2 linked regions of the Homo sapiens genome follow. Each later gene encodes a partner of the first gene's protein in a complex. Each region holds a gene or a part of one and is shown in the gene's direction. Other genes may lie near its edges.

Region 1 (7,023 bases):
GGAGGGCAGATCACCTGAGGTCAGCAGTTTGAGACCAGCCCGGCGAATGTGGTGAAACATGTCTCTACTAAGAATACGAAAATTAGCTGGGTGTGGTCACACATGACTGTAGTCCCAGCTGCTCGGGAGGCTGAGGCAGAATTGCTTGAACCTGGGAGGCAGAGGTTGCAGTGAGCGGAGACCATGGCATTGCACTTCCGCCTGGGCAGCAGAGTGAGACTCCGTCTCAAAAAAAAAAAAAAAAAAAAAGACCATTAAACCTGATGCTTCATAAGCAAGGCAAGTTTATATAGGCTGGGAGGGAGGGTGTAGGGAATAAGAGGCATCAGAGGTGACCCATCTGGATGTACTAGGTTTGGGGCAGCCCCTGGCCTCCCTCCGATCCAGCTGGGCAGACTTGGCTCGGGGTTGGCTTAAGGATCCCATTCTTCCAGGTGTGAAGAGGCAGGCTGCGGGGGCTTGCTGCGACCTCACGTCGTGTGGTTTGGAGAAAACCTGGATCCTGCCATTCTGGAGGAGGTTGACAGAGAGCTCGCCCACTGTGATTTATGTCTAGTGGTGGGTCATGCCCTTCCCTAACCCCAGGACAGGACTGGAGTTTGTTATTTTTTCCTTCCCCCTCTCCTCTTTTCCTTCCTCCCTCCCTTGCTTCTTTCCTTCCCGCCTTCTCTCCTCCCTCCATTTCTTCCTTTCCTTCAAATGTATGTTGAGAGGTCTTTGTGGTATCCTATAGAAAAACTGAGAAACAATGAATAAGAATTTGTATTAAAATAGGAAACCATGCATGTCTTGGGCATCTCAAAGCCTCCTCCCCCAGCCCCACCAAAAACAAAGAAAAGAACATGCTATTGGTTTTTTAAATAATACATGCTTATGATTAAATTTAATTGAGAACATGCAAAAATTATCACATTATAAAGAGGAAATTAGAAATCGCCCATAGTTCTGCTATCCAGAAATAGTTACCGTTAGCAGTTTAGTATGTTTTCTTCTAGACCCAGGAGTGAGCAAACAGCAGCCTTTGGGCCACATTGGGCCTGCTACCTGTTTTTGGAAATAAAGTTTTATTGGAACTCAGCCACACTCATTCTTCCACACACTGTCTATGACTACTTTCAAACTACAAGTGGCAGAGTTGAGTACTTGTGACAGAGATTGAATGGCCTGCAAAGCCTGAAAAATTTACTGTATGGTCATTTTCAGAATAAGTTTGCCCACCTCTGGTCTAAACCTTTTCTTATGCAGATGTACACGTATTAATTAAAATTCAAAACTGAGTTCATGACATATGTTCTGTTTTGAAACTACTTTGTTCACGCAGCAGTTCACTTAGCATGTTCCATATCAATATGTCTAAATCAATATCATCTTTCAATTGACTGTATGGTGTTATATATGGATAAGGAATGATATATTTAGCTAATTCTCTACTGTAAGACATTTGGGCTATTTCAAATTTTGATAGTTTAATCAATGATATCGTGAATATCCTTAGATAGAAATCTTAGCATGCTCTTCAAATGATTTCCTTAGGACACATTTCCTAAAAGTGGGATTCATTGGACAGATTGTATGCGTATTTCAAATTTTTCTTGACACGTCTTTAAAAGCAGAGGCACTTTCTTGTGGTGCGTATTCATTCAGCCAGTATTTAAAGAATGCTTCCCAGTGTTGAGTATAGTGCCACTGTTGATGATGGATTGTTAAATGAGAAAAGCCGGTTTACAAAACAGGTCATGCTCTTCCCATCCCTGTAAAGAATGTTTATAAGCAAATATTTATAAGAGAAAACCTAAGAGGACATACATGAAAATGTTAACAGTGGTTATCTTGCGGTAAGATTATGGATGATATGTATGTTTTTTTCTTCGTATTTTCTACCTTAAACAAAAAGATAGAAAATATGTTTTAAAAAGTTATGGATCATTTGTTTAACTTTAAAAAGCAGAAACAAAACCAGAATTAACCCCAAAACATGTTGATTGAGTCACTTCTATGTCACTCTTTGCATAACTCTCCTTTTCATGTCACATATTCTTCTCGATTCTAGTGATTGATCAAAGGACACCTCTTCACTTTCCCTTGTCCCTTGGACACCCTGTTTTATCCCATCCTGTTTGGCTTTTCTCACACCTGCAACCACAGACCTGCCTGAGTTTGTGTAAGGTTTTCTGAAATAATGTTCCTTCTCCTTGTCGTCTGGCTGTTTGTTCATCTCCGTGTACTTGCCTTGTAGGTGGGCACTTCCTCTGTGGTGTACCCAGCAGCCATGTTTGCCCCCCAGGTGGCTGCCAGGGGCGTGCCAGTGGCTGAATTTAACACGGAGACCACCCCAGCTACGAACAGATTCAGGTACTGGGATACCCTGATGGGAGAGGGAGATGTGGGAGGCAGGTACAGACATGGTCATCTAAACATAGTTGACCTACTCCTCTAATTTTTAAAAAAGACATAGGGTTTGTGTTTTTTTGTTTGATCTGCAGTTGCTTTTATGGAAGAACAAAATCATTCACTGTAGACTAAGGTAGGGTAGCTCTGTCATTGTATGCGAAATTTGCCGTGGGACTTTTGTTTGTTCACATTTTGAACGCTCTTCTTGGATTCCTTAGGCTTTGCTTTCCCTTACATTTTTAAGCTAGACTTAGTGATGACCTGTAGTTGTAGGTTACCCAAATGCTCCGCAAGTAAGCCTGGGAGATGCCCTTGCAGAACCTCATCACCTGCCGTTCTTACTGGGAGGCCACCTGGCAGATACCCCTTTGGTCTAATCGCCAAGGTTATTTGTATCTGTGGCCATATTATGACACTGATCCTGCTTCCCAAGTTTGGGTGGGAAGTGTAGATTGTCATAGTATGCATTTTTAGTCTTATTCCTGGGTCTGTTTTATTTCTTCATCCATGTTCTGTCTTTTTTCTCACCCCAACTTTTTTTTGCTTTTACCTCTAATTCTTGTCCATCTAGTTAATTCCTTTTGAATAAGTTAGAATATAAATAAGTAGTAAATTAATATAAATGAATAAAATAGAAAACTTCATTGAACCATCTTGTCATTACTTTAATCAACAGTTTCCAACCTTGGCTGCATATTTTAAAAATACTGATGCCTGGGTGCCACCTCATGAAATTTCGATGTCATTGCTCTGAGTTGCAGCCCAGACATCATCATTTTGATAAGCTTCCTAGGTGATTCCTGTGTGCAGCCAGGATAGGAACCACTCTTCTAAGTCTTTGCTGGGATTTAAAAAAAAAAAAGAAAAAAGAAAGAAAAGGGGCCACAGACACTTCAGTAGGCCCCTCCTCAAGTGAGTGAACTGGCTCTGAGCCTCTTCTTTTCCATGTGTCTTTTTGATCAGCTACAGCCTGTGTTCTTGATCCATAGTTCTTCATCTGTGTGTGAGTAGTAGGAACTAAGAAGATAGCCTTAAAAAAAAATTGCCTCCTATGCAAAACTTATACTCTGAAAACTACAGAACATTATTGAAAGAAATAAGGAAGGCCTAAATGAATGGAAACATATCCAGTGTTCATGGATTGGACAACTTAATATGATTAAGATGGCAATGCTCCCCAAATTGATCTATGGGCTCAATCAACTCAGTCCCTATCAAAATCACAACTGGCTTTTGACAGCAATTAATTGAAAAGATTAATCTAAAATTCATATGAAAATGCAAGGGACCCAAAATAGCCAAAACAAAATGAAAAATGAAGTTGGAGAACTCATACTTCCCAATTTCAAAACTTACTATGTATTAACTAGGCATGATGGCACATGCCTGTAATCCCAGCTACTTGGGAGGCTGAGGCAGGAGAATCGCTTGAACCTGGGAGGGGGAGGTTGCAGTGAGCCGAGATTGTGCCATTGCACTCCAGCCTGGGCAACAAGAGTAAAACTCCGTCTCAAAAAAAAAAAAAAACTTACTACAAAGTTGCAGTAATCAAGACAGTGTGGCACTGGCATAGGATAGATATATAGAATCAGTGGAGTAGAATTGAGAGTCCAGTAAAAAACAAAACAAAACAGAACAATAAAACAAACCTCACATTCATGGTCAACTGATTTTTGAAAAGAGTGGCAAGACAATTTGATGAAATACAGTCTTTTTCAAGAAATAGTGCTGGATACCCACATGCAAAAGAATAAGCTTGGACCCCTCTGTCACACCATTACAAAAAATAACCCAAAATGGATCATAGACCTAAATGTAAGAGCTAAAAGTATAAAATGTCAAAAGAAAATGTAGGAGTAAATCTTTGTAACCTTGGGTTAAAGCTTTCTTAGATATGACACCAAAAGAGCAAGTAACATAAGAAAAATGGATAAATTGGACTTTATCAAAATTTAAAACTTCTGTATTCCAATGGGTACCATCGATTAAGTAAAAAGACAACCCACAGGCCGGGTGCGGTGGCTCACGCCTGTAATCCCAGCACTTTGGGAGGCCGAGGCAGGTGGATCATGAGGTCAGGAGATCGAGACCATCCTGGTTAACACGGTGAAACCCCGTCTCTACTAAAAATACAAAAAATTAGCCGGGCGTGGTGGTGGGCGTCTGTAGTCCCAGCTACTCGGGAGGCTGAGGCTGGAGAATGGCGTGAACCCGGGAGGTGGAGCTTGCAGTGAGCCGAGATCGCGCCACTGCACTCCAGCCTGGGCGACAGAGCCAGACTCCGTCTCAAAAAAAAAAAAAAAAAAAAGACAACCCATAGAATCGGAGAAAATATTTGTAAGTCTAATATTTGATATTTGATAAGGGATTTGTATCCAGGATATATAAAGAACTCTTACAACTATAAATAATAAAAAGACAATCCAATTAAAAACCAGGTCAAAATATTTGAAAAGACATTTCTCCAAATATATACACATGGCCAATAAGCATATTGAAATGATGTTCAGTAGCAAAACCACAGTGAGATACCACTTCACAGCCACAAGCGTGGCTATAATTTTTAAGATAAAGGAAAATCACAAGTGTTGGTGAGGAAATTGGAACCCTCATACATGGCTGATGAGAATGTACAATGGCGCAGTCATTTTAGAAAACAATGTGGCATTTAAATATAGGGTTACTATATGATCTAGCAATTCTACTCCTTGGTATATAGTCCTAGAAATGAAATCATACATCTACACAAAAATCTGTACACAAATGTTCATAGCAACTTGTTAATGGAAAAAGTAGAAACAACCCAAACGTCCATCGACTGAAGGATGAATAAATAAAATTTGGTATGTTTGTACAATGGACTATATTTTAGCCATAAAAAGAACGAGATATCCATACATGCTACTACATGGATGACCCTTGAAAACGTTATGCTAAGTGAAAGAAGCCAGTCATAAAAGACCATATATGGTATGACTTCATTTATACGAAATATCTAGAATAGGCAGATCAATAGAGAGAAGGTAGATGAGTGGTTGTTTTGGCTGGGAGTAGGGAGGAATTGGGAGTGGGTGCTAATGAGAACAAGTTTCTTTGAGGTTGTTAAAAATGCTCTAAAGTTGATTGTGGTGATGGTTGTATAATTCTGTGAATACACTAAAAGCCACTGAATTATATATTTGAAATAGGTGGATTGTATGTGAATCAAATCTCAATAAAGCTGTTAGATAAAAAGTTAAATGATCTTCTAACTTATCTCCTGAAAAATGCACATTGAGCCTCCGTCTGATTTGTGTTGTGGCACCTATGTGGAGCAGCTGGGCCACTTAGCATGACTAAGCGTAGTAATACCGGAGCTAGGCAGCTCAAGCCTCCTGTCTGTTTGAAAGACCATCAGAAAACTCGAAGAGTGGGACAGGATAAACTTTGTGAAGCAGGACCTGAGCTATGTCCCCAGTTTGGTTCTTCTAATGTGGTTTCTTTTCAGTCATTTGATCTCCATCTCATCTCTAATTATTATAAAGAATTAAAACAAGTCATCATTGTAGAAAAGCAAGAAAATGCAGATAGAGAAAAAGAAGAAAATAAAACTGGAGTATTTCCACAACCCAAGTTTAGAGTTGGCCCCCACCTCCCATGCCATGGACTGAGCAGCAGGGGCCCAGCATCCCTTGGATATGGTGGCTGTGTCTTCATGTGAAAGAAACTGAACTTGGTGGTTTTTCCTGCCAGTTCAGGAGAGATTCTTGGCATGTAATATATATCACTGCTCAAGTCAAGCCTCCTAAAACCACAGACCTGTTTCAGCTGCTACTTCAGCCAAAATTCTTCAGCTTCATATTGTCTTGAAAACCTATGATTGTCTCTAACAAACAGGCTACTTGCTAGTTAGAAATTCTTATCAATTTGGCAAGCTACTTATCAACCAGACTGACCACAAGAACTGTCATCTCATCAATGAAGGAGTAACTGATCAATGAAGCCAGCAATGCTTTTTTCTTGGCATCATCAAAGCTGACATTTAGAAGAGATGCTGGTGATAGTCATCTCATCCTACTCAATTTTTCAAAGGCAGAAACCAACCCTGGAGCAATTGAGAGGACTGTTTAAACACAGAGCTTAACAATGGCAGAATTGTATATCTCGTGCTTAACAGATTTTGGTTGAACTTTACCCTAGGTCAGGGGTCAGCAAACTACTGCCTGTGGGCCAAATTTGCCCACCACCTGTATCTGTAAATAAGGTTTCATTGGAACACAGCTGTGGCCATATGTTTGTATATTGTGTGTGGCTGCTTTTGCATTAGGATGACAGAGGTGAATAGTTGCAACAGAGACTGGCTGGTCTGCAAAGCCTAAAATATGTCCTGTGTGGCCCTTTACAGAAAAAGTTTTCTAACCCCTGCTCTAGGTTACGGAGAAAAAAAAAATGGAATAATGTTCTCTGCTACTTTTAACCTGATTTTCTTTGTTACCTAAATAGGCAGCTAGAATGCTGCCTATATTTTAATAAGGATTTGGATCTCACAAGACACCTTAGGCCTTACACAAGTTGTTCAGATTCTTTGCCCCAGTTCTAATCTAGTGACAAAGGCATAGAATTCTCCTCCCACAGGAATGTATTTCTATTTTC
Region 2 (7,465 bases), on another chromosome or scaffold:
TCCAGGGCTCAAGTGATCCTCTCACCTCAGCCTACCAAGTAGCTGGGACTATAGTCACATGCCAAATGTGCTCCACTCTCTTTTAGTTCTTTTTTCTTTTCTTTTTTTCTTTTTTCTTTTTTTTTTTTTTTGAGACAGAGTCTTGCTCTGTTGCCCAGGTTGGAGTGCAGTGGCGGGATCTCAGCTCACTAAAACCTCTGCCTCCCGGGTTCAAGTGATTCTCCTGCTGCAGCCTCCTGAGTAGCTGGGATTGCAAGTGCCTGCCACCACGCCCAGCTAATTTTTGTATTTTTAGTAGAAACAGGTTTTCACCATGTTGGTCAGGCTGGTCTGGAACTACTGACCTCATGATCTGCCCACCTTGGCCTCCCAAAGTGCTGGGATTACAGGCTTGAGCCACCATGCCCGGCTTTTGTTCTTTTTTTTTAGACGGAGTCTCACTCTGTCACTCAGGCTGGAGTGCAGTGGCGCGATCTCGGCTCACTGCAACCTCCGCCTCCTGGGTTCAAGAGATTCTCCTGCCTCAGCCCCCTGAGTAGCTGGGACTACAGGTGCACACCACGAAACCCAGCTAATTTTTGTATTTTTAGTAGAGATGGGATTTCTCCATGTTGGCCAGGCTGGTCTCAAACTCCTGACCTTGTGATCTGCCCGCCTTAGCCTCCCAAAGTGCTGGGATTACAGGCATGAGCCACCGTGCCTGGCCTTGTTCTTGAATTAGAAAAATAAACTCAAGTGCCCAGCCCAATGCCTGGCATATGGTGAATACAATAGGTGGCAATTTTCTTTGGGCTGAAGTATGACTGTATGTACTGTGTATTGGTTTAGCCTGCCCATAGCCAATAACCATCCATTATTAAGCTCTGAACTTTCATGCTGCCCTTGCTCCTGCAAGAAAGAAAGGGGAGTCTCTCTGAGCCTACGCTGGCTGCTGGCTCGGGTGGCTGCCTGATAAAAAAGAATAAAAGTTACATAAAAATTAAAAAAAGGAATAATGCCAACTAACTATTCAGCCTCAGGCAAAGAAGGAAAAAGCAAATAAATCACGTCTATGCAAAGTAGTATGATAAATAACAAAAATTGAGATGCTCAATGAGCATGAGACAGCACTTCCTCATTCATTATCCCACTATAAGGGCCAAGGGAGTTAGTGAGGGAGCTGGGGACAGAGACAGAAACATGATACTATTGATTGAATGCTCACTGACTGAGCTCCTATTTTATATCAGATGCTTTGTTGTGACTTTGGGGACACAGAGACAGATGTCACCCACATCCTACTCTCCAGAAAGTCACTCTAGCAGGCAGAGGAAGAAATGTAAAACTAAAATTGCTTAAAAGATTTTTTTGGCTATACAAGCTATTGTTTGGACACAAAGGAGGGGAATTGTAAATCCTGGGAATGAGTAAAGGTAAGAAACAGCCGGAGAGAAAGTAATGCTGAAAGACATGTTTTCTCCAGGGAAAGAGTTTTCCAGGTTCAAACAAAAGTCTGAAGGCGGCCGGGCTCAGTGGCTCACTCCTGTAATCCCAGCACTTTGGGAGGCTGAGGCAGGTAGATCAACTGAGGTCAGGAGTTTGAGACCAGCCTGGCTGACATACTGAAACCCCGTCTCTACTAAAAATACAAAAAATTAGCCGGGCGTGGTGGTGGGCGCCTGTAATCCCAGCTACTTGGGAGGCTGAGGCAGGAGAATTGCTTGAACGCTGGAGGTGGAGGGTGCAGTGAGCAGAAGTCGTGCCATTGCACTCCTGCCTGGGCAAGAAAAGCGAAATTCCATCTTAAAAAAAAAAGTCTGAAGGCTTGAAACAACTACACTGTGTTCTGGGTGTTATAAGTGTGAAGGATGGAAGAGTTATACTAATAGCAGCTAACATTTCTAATTTATAATAAGAACTAAGTACTGTACTGAACTACATAGATAATCACAATAAAGTATTAATATTATTCCCATTTTACAGTTGAGAAAAGTAAGGTTTAATGAGTTTAAGACTTGCCCAAGTTCACACCTAAAATTACAGTGAGGAGTTTTTGTGTTTGTGTGTGTGTGTTTTTTTTTGAGACAGAGTTTCGCTCTTGTTGCCCAGGCTGGAGTGCAATGGCGCTATCTCAGCTCACTGCAACCTCTGCCTCCCTGATTCAAGCGATTCACCTGCCTCAGCCTCCAGAGTAGCTGGGATTACAGACATGCGCCACCACACGTGGCTAATTTTGTATTTTTAGTAGAGATGGGGTTTCTCCACGTTAGGCTGGTCTCGAACTCCTGACCTCAGGTGATCTGCCCTCCTCAGCCTCCCAAAGTGCTGGGATTACAGACATGAACCACCGCGCCCGGCCCTGACAGTGAGGAGTTTTAACTCAGTAAATTGACTACAGAGCCTCAGCTTTTATTTTATTTTTTATTTTTCTTTTCTTTTTAAATTTTACTTTCTTTCTTTCTTTAGCCCCAGCTTTTAAACCACGAATAACAGTGACATGATCAGACTTCAGAAAGATTTCCTTCAGCTGCAGTGGAAGGGATGGATAAGAGATAGTGTTAATTGAAATGAGTGACTAAACTGACTAAACCATGTCACAGACACTTTTGTGGCTGTTTCTTCCCCAGCTTTTAAACCACGAATAACAGTGACATGATCAGACTTCAGAAAGATTTCCTTCAGCTGCAGTGGAAGGGATGGATAAGAGATAGTGTTAATTGAAATGAGTGACTAAACTGACTAAACCATGTCACAGACACTTTTGTGGCTGTTTCTTCCCAAGAGGTTCTCAGGAGGTTTTTAGTATTTATACATTTTCCTTGAAAAGTGGGGGTGGGAAAGATTGAGGCAAAGACTTTAGCTAATGCTCAGGAAATCTACGTTTTGTTTTTTGAGACGGAGTCTTGCTCTGTTGCCAGGCTGGAGTGCAGTGGTGCTCTCGGCTCACTGCAACCTCTGCCTCCGGGTTCAAGCGATTCCCCTGCCTCAGCCTCCCAAGTAGCTAGGACTACAGGCGCGCCACCACACTCGGCTAAGTTTTTGTATTTTAGCAGAGACAGGGTTTCACCATGTTGGCCAGGATGGTCTCGATCTCCTGACCTTATGATCCGCCCTCCTAGGTGGCCTAAATCTACATTTTTACATAAGATAAGGTGAATGTTTGAAGAAAAAGGGAATGGAGGAAGAAAACAATTATGTGGTGGACTCAGGGTAATCTAGTAGTAAGGTACTACTAGAAAGGTAGAAAGTAGTCTAGTAGAAAGGTAATCTAGTAGTGAACATTTATGGAATTTGTGGAATAGAGGCCAGGTGCGGTGGCTCGCGCTTACATTCCTAGCACTTTGGGAGGCCAAGGCGGGCGGATCACCTGAGGTCAGGCGTTGGAGACCAGCCTAGCCAACATGATGAAACCTCGTCTCTACTAAAAATACAAAAAATTAGCTGGGCGTGGTGGTGCGTGCTTGTAGTCCCAGACACTCCGGAGGTGAGGCGGGAGAATCGCTTGAGCCCGGGAGGTGGAGGTTGCAGTAAGCCAACACCGTGCCACTGCACTACAGCCTGGGCGACAGGGTGAGTGAGACTCCGTCTCAAAAAAATGTGGAATAGAACAAACTTTAGTTTTAGGAACTAGACTTTATATTGTAGATCTAGTTGCAATTGACACGTCCTTGTTTTATGGGAGGCTACATACTTTAAAGGTTTCCAGGGGAGCAAATAATTAATTATGATTTTGTGTATGTGTGTTTGTGGGGGGTAGTCATCAGGAAATGTCTGAGGCCTTTTGCCTTACCGTGTGGGTCTGGCTAATGTGTAATGTTTTGACTCAAGATTGTAAAGTCAAATTATTCATCCGGGGAGAGGATGGTCGTGTAACTGAATCAGCCTCCCAAGATGAACTTTCCCTCTGGCGTAAGTTTAGGAGTCCTGATATTTTATTTTCCTTTACAACAGAAAGCAGCAACCCTGTAATTAAAGAGAACAATGAAGGAAGCTATCTAAGCCATGAGGGTTACTGAGGATCTGCGCTGGGGTTAAGGCTGCGAACTTAAGAAATATTTGGATAGACAGTTCTCATGGCTTGGTGTGGTTAGACGTGGTCCTCCGTGGGCAGCAGCTAAGACGCTTACTCCAGTTTGGGCATTGAGGGCACAGTGCGTAGTGGTCCTGGAAGTAAAGAGAATCCTGGTTTTCCGCAGAGATCTAGGATTAACCTAAGCGTTCGGGTTCGGGAGCGGCCACAAGGGCGCCTCACTCCAACCTCAGCCATCCGCAACAGGGTGGGGTATTAGTATTTTTCCGCACCCGCCCCAACGAGGGAAAGCGCCGAGTCATTCCGGCGGGGCGCGCCGGGCGGGGCTCGGGCCACATCCCCCTCCTCTCTCTCCTCCTCCGGCACCCCCGTCCGTTCCGACTCTCGCGAGATCCCTACTGGCTATAAAGGCAGCGCCCCGGAGAGCTCTTGCGCGTCTTGTTCTTGCCTGGTGTCGGTGGTTAGTTTCTGCGACTTGTGTTGGGACTGGTGAGTGTGGGCAGTGCGGCCCCTGCGGAGTGAGGCGCGGCGCGCCCTTCTTGCCTGTTGCCTCTTCCTCCTCCTGTCCGGGGCCCGCCCGCGCTCGGGTGGGGGTGCTGTGATGCGTGAGGCAGCCGGGGGAGGCCCGGAGTCCGAGACTGCTTGAGCGCTGCGCACACCCCTCTCGTGGGCCCCCCACGTAGGTGCGGGAACCTGGTTGAACCCCAAGGCAAGCGTGGACTCGAGTCGAGTCTTCCCCCGGCAACTCGAGCACGTGGCGCGGCGTCTGGGCGGGCTGGTGGTGGGGGTCTCCGAGACTAGCCTCCTGCCGGACGGGGTGGGTTCGGGAAGCTTCTGGAATGGACCTGTATCCAGACTCGTGGCTGTAGAAGACAGCCTCTATGTATTTGGCTGTTCCGGGTCCTGAGCCTTGACTAGCTGCGGAGCTTCGGGTACCCTTTCCCCGTCTTTATTTTCCTGTACGTGGAATGGAGTTAGCGATGAGCCCAAATGTCCCCGCTGAAGCACTCTCTCTGCTGGTGCTTTCTCCAGTGCTGGGGAGGGACAGGGGGCACCTGAAGTGGGGTTTAGGGATGTGGCCCTCTACGCTGGGCAGATCCCCTGAAGGGGCCCGGTGGCGGCCTGAATCCCAGCAGCCTTTACCCCGAATTGGTTGGGTTTTGTACTTGGGGGCCACTTGGGAAAGAAGGATTGGACGAGAAGGCCATTTGGGGGCACCAAGTTGCAGCATGCCTTAGTTTTTGGTTTTTGTTTTTTGTCGTTAAAGGTGTTAAGGACTTTTTAAAAAACAGTTAAAAGTTTGCTAAGATCCATGCTTACAAAATTTCTTTTGCTTGTGGTATTGTGAACTAAGAACTTTGGGACTTGGAAAAGCTTTCAGACCGCGGCTTAGTGGGTTAAATCTCTGTTTTTTGAGCTAGAGTCTCGCTCTGTCGGCCAGGCTGGAGTGCAGTGGCGCGGTCTCGGCTTACTGCAACCCCTGTCTCCCGAATTCAAGCAATTCTTCTGCCTCAGCCTTAGGAGTAGCTGGGATTACAGGCTTGTGCCACCAAGCCCCGGCTAATTTTTGTATTTTTTTTTTTTTTTTTTTTTTGAGACGGAGTCTCGCTCTGTCGCCCAGGCTGGAGTGCAGTGGCTGGATCTCGGCTCACTGCAGCCTCCGCCTCCCGGGTTCACGCCATTCTCCTGCCTCAGCCTCCCGAGTAGCTGGGACTGCAGGCGCGTGCCACCACCCCCGGCTAATTTTTTGTATTTTTGTTAGAGACGGGGTTTCACTATGATGGCCAGGCTGGTCTCGAACTTCTGACCTCAGGTGATCTGCCTGCCTCGGCCTCCCAAAGTGCTGGGATTACAGGCTTGAGCCACAGCGCTTGGCCAAGATCTCAATACTAATCTTGGTGTTGATCTGGGTGAATCCAGTGCAACCTTCCTTTTCAGCAGTAAATTGATTCTTATACTTGTTTTCGCCCTGGGATATTAGCCCCAAAGTCAGGAACCCACCTTCACAAATGGTGAAGGGAATTCTAGGGCTTACACAATACCTAAAGATTTGAAATTAAGCAGATGCCAATCAATATCTTGGTCTTGCCTCTTTTTTTTTTTTTTTTTTTTGGAGACAGAGTCTCACTCTGTTGCCCAGGCTGGAGTGCAGTGGCGCGATCTCAGCTTACTGCAACCTCTGCCTCCCGGGTTCAAGTGATTCTCCTGCTTCAGCCTCCTGAGTAGTTGCGATTACAGGCATGCACCACCACGCCCGACTAATTTTTGTGTTTCTAGTAGAGACGGGGTTTCACCATGTTGGCCAGACTGGTCTCGAACTCCTGACCCGGTGATCCGCCCGCCTGAGCCTCTCAAAGTGCTGGGATTACAGGTGTGAGACACTGCGCCCAGTGGTCTTGCCTCTTAAAAGTTGGACTGACTGGAAGGGCGCGGTGGCTCACGCCTGTAATCCCAGCATTTTGGGAGACTGAGTTGGGCAATCATCTGAGGTGAGGAGTTTGAGACTAGCCTGACCAACATGGAGAAATCCCGTCTCTAATAGAAGTACAAAAAAATTAGCCGGGTGTGGTGGCCTGCGCCTGTAATCCCAGCTACTATGGAGGCTGAGGCAGGAGAATCCCTTGAACCTGAGAGGTGGAGGTTGCAGTGAGCCGAGATAATGCCATTGCATTCCAGCCTGGGCCCCAAGAGCGAAACTCCGTCAAAAAAACAAAACAAAACAAAAACAAATAAAACAAGTTGAATTAGTTATAGGTTGTGTGCTGTCTTGGACAAAGCTACCTGGAGAAAAGTCAAATATGCTTCTGATGTTATGAAGGCAGGTGGAGGCACAGTGATGGGAAAGGTCAACGTGACTTTTGGGGAGCCAAACAAAAGTGTTTGTGGCATTGTGCATTTGGATTCTGGTTTGAGAGTCTTCATCTGCCTCTCTCTCTGCTTCTGTATAATGAATAAGATGCCACTGCACTAATTATGGTTCAGAAAGAATGAGAGGTTATCTCAGTATATAAAGAAATTGCCTTGCTGTTTTTAAATGAAAACAAAGGCTGAGATTCAGAGACTTGTTTCGTTCCAAAAGTTGGAAAGCTCAGACTGTGACCCTTGACTGCTGGCTGGAGCTTCTTACTAAAACAACATTTAATGTATTCAGGGACACTGGACAATGCCTTGATTGTTTACAGCTAAGTCTCTTTAAGTAGGTGAAGGCTGCTGGTTATGTAGAAAATTAAGGCTTGTTTCTAATTCATTTCTGTTATTTCTAGCTGATAGGAAGATGTCTTCAGGAAATGCTAAAATTGGGCACCCTGCCCCCAACTTCAAAGCCACAGCTGTTATGCCAGATGGTCAGTTTAAAGATATCAGCCTGTCTGACTACAAAGGTGAGAGAATTAACACTGGGCTCATTGAGATGGAGTTATTTTATATTCTAGGGGTGGCTTGTTAGATTTGTGTCAA

What was found. Proteins that work in one complex are often made in the same cells at the same time.
Region 2: the proteins of SIRT5 (region 1) and PRDX1 are in contact, whole or in part, in a crystal structure (PDB 8Z54), measured with the Homo sapiens proteins. Residues at the interface, in NP_001363727.1 of Homo sapiens: Ala86, Tyr102, Arg105, Gln140, Ile142, His158, Val220, Val221, Trp222, Phe223, Gly224, Glu225, Asn226, Leu227, Leu232, Val253, Val254, Tyr255, Pro256; in NP_001189360.1 of Homo sapiens: Phe195, Ser196, Lys197, Gln198.

Annotation. Positions count from the first base shown.
Region 1 is NC_000006.12:13,598,598-13,605,620, forward strand, and holds part of SIRT5 (NAD-dependent protein deacylase sirtuin-5, mitochondrial), read left to right. Parts: intron 1-432; exon of another isoform or gene 433-434; coding exon 435-558; exon of another isoform or gene 559-1,044; intron 1,045-2,236; coding exon 2,237-2,352; intron 2,353-2,483; coding exon of another isoform or gene 2,484-2,523; exon of another isoform or gene 2,524-3,040; intron 3,041-5,878; coding exon of another isoform or gene 5,879-5,921; exon of another isoform or gene 5,922-7,023. UniProt on the Homo sapiens protein: NAD-dependent lysine demalonylase, desuccinylase and deglutarylase that specifically removes malonyl, succinyl and glutaryl groups on target proteins.
Region 2 is NC_000001.11:45,518,862-45,526,326, reverse strand, and holds the start of PRDX1 (peroxiredoxin-1), read left to right. Parts: upstream 1-4,442; 5' UTR 4,443-4,498; exon of another isoform or gene 4,499-4,718; intron 4,719-7,272; 5' UTR 7,273-7,283; coding exon 7,284-7,389; intron 7,390-7,465. UniProt on the Homo sapiens protein: Thiol-specific peroxidase that catalyzes the reduction of hydrogen peroxide and organic hydroperoxides to water and alcohols, respectively.